Linked DNA regions of Homo sapiens: region 2 is linked to region 1. Evidence: fine-mapped expression QTL. A gene starts in region 1. The other region holds a variant in brackets. All regions are shown on one strand. Distances are from middle to middle.

Region 1 (2,909 bases):
GTCTTTCTTCAAGTCCTGCTCCCTCAAAAATTTAATCTTCCAAAAAGCAGCTAAAATGATTTTTTTTTTTTTGAGACAGAATTTTGCTCTGTCGCCCAGGCGCTCAGCTCACTGCAACCTCCGCCTCCTGGGTTCAAGTGATTCTCGTGCCTCAGCCACTGGAGTAGCTGGGATTACAGGCGTGCACCACCACGCCCCTCTAATTTTTATATTTTTAGTAGAGACGGGGTTTCACCATGTTGGCCAGGTTGGTCTCAAACTCCTGACCTCAGATGATCCGGCTTCTTCGGCTGGCTCCCTAAAGTGCTGGGATTACAGGCATGAGACAATGCGCCCAGCCAGAATGATCTTGAAAAACCAATTCGGGCTCAAGCTTTAAATCCTCTCGTAGTTTCCCACTATAATGAAAAGAAAGTCTAAAGTGCTCATCTTGACTTACAAAGCTAATCATCTGTCGCCTCCTTACCCCTCCATGTTCATCTTGGGCCATTCATCCTCTGCCCATTGAGCTTCAGATCCACAAGCCCTTCAGTTCCTCACCCCAGCAGTTTCCTTTGCTAGGACTGCTCTTTCTGGCAGATGACTAGGCTTCTTCCTCTTTCAGATCTCACCTTCTTAAATGTCACCTCAGACAGGCAGGTATCCTGTCCGCTACTGTAACATCCTCTTTAAATAGCCCCCATCACACCTATTTGTTGTTTGTTCCAGCCCCTCCGCGAACCCTGCCTCTACCCGCCGCATGGCAGCTACCTGGGAGAGTGCCTGGAGTTGAATGAATGAAAATAGTCTGTAGGGTGCACTGCCCTTGTCAATCACAAGCAGATTTAATTACCTGTGCCAGAACTCACGGGAGGGAAACACCGTCCGCCAGCCCCGCTCTTTCCTGGCTACAGATAAAAGCTCCAGGTTCCGGGGGTTCCGGTTGGTGAATTCTGGGGCGACAGCTTCATTTTCCACAGGGTCCACTTCAGGTTTCGCTGCCGGCTCGGAGCTGGTTGACAGGGCTGCGAACCTGCACCCTGGGCAACGGGAAAAACCGCACAGGGCTTAAAAATGACGGATATGGACAGCGCACGAACCCGCTCTAACGTCTATCCGCTTTTACACCCCCAATCTTTAGGCCCGAGGGGACGAAAAATACGTATGCCCACAGGGTGGAGTCAGCACTGACCCCGTCCTTAACTTCCTACTGTGGTCTTCGCAGTGCCGCGAGCTCTATTTCGATCCGGCACGTCGAATACAAAATAGAACCCGCACGTTCCAATGTACTGTGCAAGCCCAGGCGAGTGAGCTGGGAGAAGGGGGGCAAGACTAATTACCAGGGTTCCTGCAAACCGAGAACAACCCCCAAAACCGCGACCGAAGCGCCATCGCTGAGACGATCTCGGAAAAGCCTCGCCTCTTTTTCCTCACGGACGACTCAGTCGCTCGCCAGGAGCAGCCATATAAAGTCAGGGACAAGCCTTTGGCTGCTGTAGATCCCCAAACTCTCCACGCCAGACGCCACCGACCCGGAAGTAGCAAGTCCCCTGCCACTGAGTGGCCGAGAAGGCGATCTGTTATCCTTCATCGCCAATCATCGCTCACGTCGAGGGGCACGCAGGCCCTGGAGCCCACCAACCACCTCGTAGCTACGCCCAAGACCACGCTTGTTGCTTAAGTCCGGGGTCAAAGGCACACACCCCACAAAACCATGTTTGGGTTTTCTACTCGGAGAGCTTGGGCGGTCATCGACTGGTCCACACACACCCCACCTGGGCACCGCGTAGGAATAAGGCAGGGCAAGATGCAGTTTTCTCCTTAAAAAGGGTGGTTGTCTTCCTCGAACCAAAAATTTTCCCGTATGGCCCGCTGGAAAAACTGCCCCGTCCCACCCAGGTTCGCGCCCTTAAACTTACACTCCTGAGGCCTGGAGCAAAGCCGGCCGATCTGCCTCACGCTCCCCGAGCAGGGACAAGGAAAAGACACTAAACCTAAAACGCACGACTCGCTCAGAACCCCAACTCTAACTTGGAGAAGGGCCCGCCCCTCCAGTTACACCCCAGCTCCAAGCTCCACCCTTCTTACAACCTTTTCTAGAAGGCACTAGAATGGCCCACTGCGTCTGCGCAACATCGTTTGAGGCGAAGGTTCAACCTCTTCCCAGCGGTCCAACATCCGACTTCCGTTCTCCGCTTTCGCGCCCTTCCCATCGGCTATCTAATTGGACAAAAATGCCGACCCCGCCCCTTCCCCGGAGCCTCACTTCCGTCACAGTCCTGTTTCTCTCCCTGTTGTCCCTGCCTCTTTTTCCTTCCCGCCGTGCCCCGCGGCCGGGCCGGGGCAGCCGGGAAGCGGGTGGGGTGGTGTGTTACCCAGTAGCTCCTGGGACATCGCTCGGGTACGCTCCACGCCGTCGCAGCCACTGCTGTGGTCGCCGGTCGGCCGAGGGGCCGCGATACTGGTTGCCCGCGGTGTAAGCAGAATTCGACGTGTATCGCTGCCGTCAAGATGGAGGGGCCTTTGTCCGTGTTCGGTGACCGCAGCACTGGGGAAACGATCCGCTCCCAAAACGGTAAGGGCGGGCCGGGCCTGGGTCGGGTTTGCGGCCGGGGAGGGCCGAGTCCCACCGCGACCGGACCCCGGCTGCCCTCGTTTCTCTCCTTTACCTCCGCAGAAAGGGCCTCGGGGCCCCGCAGCCGGACCCAGCCCACCCGCCGTTCTCTGGGGCAGGGCGCTGTGGCCCCACTTTTCCCACAGCGAGGAGGAGCCCCGCCGCGCGCGGCAGGGTTTTGAGACCGGCAACGCGTGGATGTGGTGTCCGGGGCGGCGTTGGAAACGCGCCCTCCGCGGGAAAGCGGGCCTCCCGGGCTCGCACGTGCGGGCCACGCCTCGCACCCCCTTTTGTTTCAGGGCGACCCCCTGAGTGT
Region 2 (2,909 bases), 49 kb after region 1:
GTGATGCATGTCTGTAATCCCAGCTACTTGGGAGGCTGAGGCAGGTCAATGACTTGAACCTGGGAGGCAGAGGTTGCACTAAGCCCAGATTGTGCCACTGCACTCCAGCCTGGGCAACAGTGCGAGACCCTGTCTCAAACAAACAAATAAATAAATAAAATAGTAATAACTGCTGGACAATTTGTATTTTAAACTTGAGGCAGGATCTTATTCTGTTACCCAGGCAGGAGTCCAGTGGCACAATCAGGGCTCACTGCAGCAGCCTTGACCTCCCGGGCTCTAGTGATCCTCCTGACTCTTTTTTTTTTTGTAGAGACAAGGTCTCCCTATGTTGCCTATGCTGGTCTCAAACTCCTGGGCTCAAGTGATCTTCCCACCTTGGCCTCCCAAAGTGCTGGGATTATAGGTGTGAGCCACTGTGCCTAGCCTTAAACTTTCACAATGTTCATGACTTCTATGGGTAACACAGTCACGCAAAATTAGAATTTCAGGGTATTAACCCTTCTGAAGTTACAAAACAATATATATTGGTTTTTATACTCAACAAATAGTATGTGATTCAAACAGTAAAAAGTGAGACTAAAATGGCTTAAAATGATAAACGTTATTTTCAGCAGATTTAAAAAAATCTGTATATATTATTAAGTTATATATATTGATTTAAGCTGTCATAAATCTGTTACTGGTTGCTTCTGTTTATTTCTCTTCTAGACTAGTAACTCATGCTTCAAGTCAAATTCCTATGCAGAAGGGGTTAGGGACAAGTAAGAAAAGTTTCAAGTAGTTCTGAGTTACTGCATCTATATTCAGAACCTTGCATATAATTTTGCTAAGTCATGCCATTACATGACTATTACACCTCTGTCTTCTCCAATGACTGAGACTGTGTCTCATTCATCTTTATATTTTCTTGCACCCAACACAGTGCCTATGTACAGTTCTTATAATAAAACACGAGAAAAATTACATTTGCTTTAATAAAAACAACTATCCTTTTGATTTTAACAATCAAAAGGAGATTATTCAGTCTTTAGGAAGCTAAAACTCAAACTTACAGTTAAGATCTGTGTACTTGCCCTCCAAAGCTTGTACATATGCTTCATATTGTTTCCATCTAATAAAAAAAAATCCATACATTAGTTGTTACGATAAAATAGTTTATTAAATAAACTAGAAGATATCTATAAACTCACAGATTTTAGTAATACTGAGCATTCTTCTGGATTTTTCATTTTAAATCTAGTTTTTTTTAGACAGAGTCTCGCTCTGTCCCCCAGGCTGGAGTGCAGCGTGGCGCAAACAGGGTCTGGGCTCAAGCGATGTCCCTGCCTCAGCTTCCTGTATAGCTGGGACCAAAGGCACATGGCTCATTTTTTTGTAGAGATGGGGTCTCACTA[C/T]GTTGCCCAGGCTGGTCTTGAACTCCCGAGCTCAAATGATCCTCACACCCTGGCCTCCCAAACTGCTGAAATTACAGGCCTGAGTCACCACACCCAGCCTAAATCTAGTTTAACTGATCATAAAATAGTCCCTCATTATTCCTTCCCATTTTACAGGAAACAGGTAAAAAGAGATATATAGAGAAGGTTTTTTCTGCTGAGAACATGCCAAGCATGCCCTGGGTGAGATCAAACCCCAGATTCACTTTGATATCACTGATGTTCAGGATAATCCTGGATTATAGAAGCTGAAAAAAAAATCCCACTGCTGCTTTCATATGTTGTCCACTTAGAACAAAAGGCATATTAGAAATGTGCCTCATTATGTAGAATTGAAGGTTCTTTATCTTGGCTCTTTTGGGAAAATACCATGTGACTCTTCTCAAGGTAGTATCAATTTCTGCCTGTAAACACAGGGGGAGAATATAACATTTTTCAAGACTGTAATTTAACAATCACATCTAACTGTCAGAAACCTGCATAAATGCCATATGCTATCAGAATACAAGGGGACCGTTGTTCTTCATTATACTTCTCTACCCTGAATATATACACTGCTAGGTCCTCTTAGCAATAAAGATTTTTCCTAGTCTTATTAGGCAGTTCCTAATGGAAAGCACCCTGCCCTGAATGTCTGCTATCCTGCATACTTAAGAGCCATGTTTTCAAGCTGCTCTTCAGGTACAATTAATTAAAATTTGGCTTTAGAAAACCATTTTATAATCTTAAAAACAGGCTTGTCATGAGTTATTAATATTACAACATAATGAACAAAAAGGCTCGTGCCTGTAATCCCAGCACTTTGGGAGGCCGAGGCGGGCAGATCATGAGGTCAAGAAATCAAGACCATCCTGGCCAACACAGTGAAATCCCGTCTCTACTGAAAATACAAAAAAATTAGCAGGGCATGGTGGCGCATGCCCGTAGTCCCAGCTACTTGGGAGGCTGAGGCAGGAGAACCGCTTGACCGGGAGGCGGCGGTTGCAGTGAGCCGAGATCGCGCAACTGCATTCCAGCCTGGTGACAGAGCGAGACTCTGTCTTAAAAAAAAAAAAAAGAAAGAAAAAAGAAAAAAAAAAAACCTTCCTAATACCAAACTAATCCACTTTCTATGTAAACACTGATGTTCAGCCAAGGCCATGCTTTATTTTTACGGCACTTACAACCTAAGACACGTAGTTTACCAAATATTTGGGGATGTATAGAGAAAGATCTTCAGTGGAGGCTATAAAAGAACGATTTATTTTAGAAGTACAGAAAAATATAAAAACTGAAGCAAGAACATGTATATCACAAGGATAGAAGGCACAGACTAGTTAAATAAGTAGCAGCTGGTTTAAAATCTCCAAGGGAATCAAAGAGAAAAAACTCGCCTAAAAGTCTTACATGAATTCCCTAAGGAAAGATGTTAAACTGACCTCAAGGAAATACACTGCATATGATTTAGAAACCTTAAAGGTATCTTAAAATAAA

Evidence for each region.
Region 2: its variant is fine-mapped to the expression of MRPL18 in esophagus muscle (GTEx, PIP 0.90).

Annotation. Positions count from the first base shown.
Region 1 is chr6:159,789,050-159,791,958 of GRCh38, reverse strand. MRPL18 (mitochondrial ribosomal protein L18) reads right to left here and starts at 1,492. Exons shown (of 4, transcript NM_014161.5): 1 at 1,320-1,492; 2 at 833-1,019. The coding sequence starts at 1,371. It overlaps TCP1 (t-complex 1), which reads left to right and starts at 2,357. Exons shown (of 12, transcript NM_030752.3): 1 at 2,357-2,554. The coding sequence starts at 2,491. RefSeq lists enhancers at 1,305-1,364, 1,395-1,574, 1,831-2,494, 2,495-2,909.
Region 2 is chr6:159,740,293-159,743,201 of GRCh38, reverse strand. It overlaps WTAP (WT1 associated protein), which reads right to left. Exons shown (of 8, transcript NM_001270531.2): 4 at 1,056-1,114. It also overlaps a transcript of SOD2 not described here. Among named protein-coding and RNA genes, the nearest start is that of WTAP, 14 kb to the right of the region's middle. The variant C/T (reference allele first, on the strand shown) is at 1,398.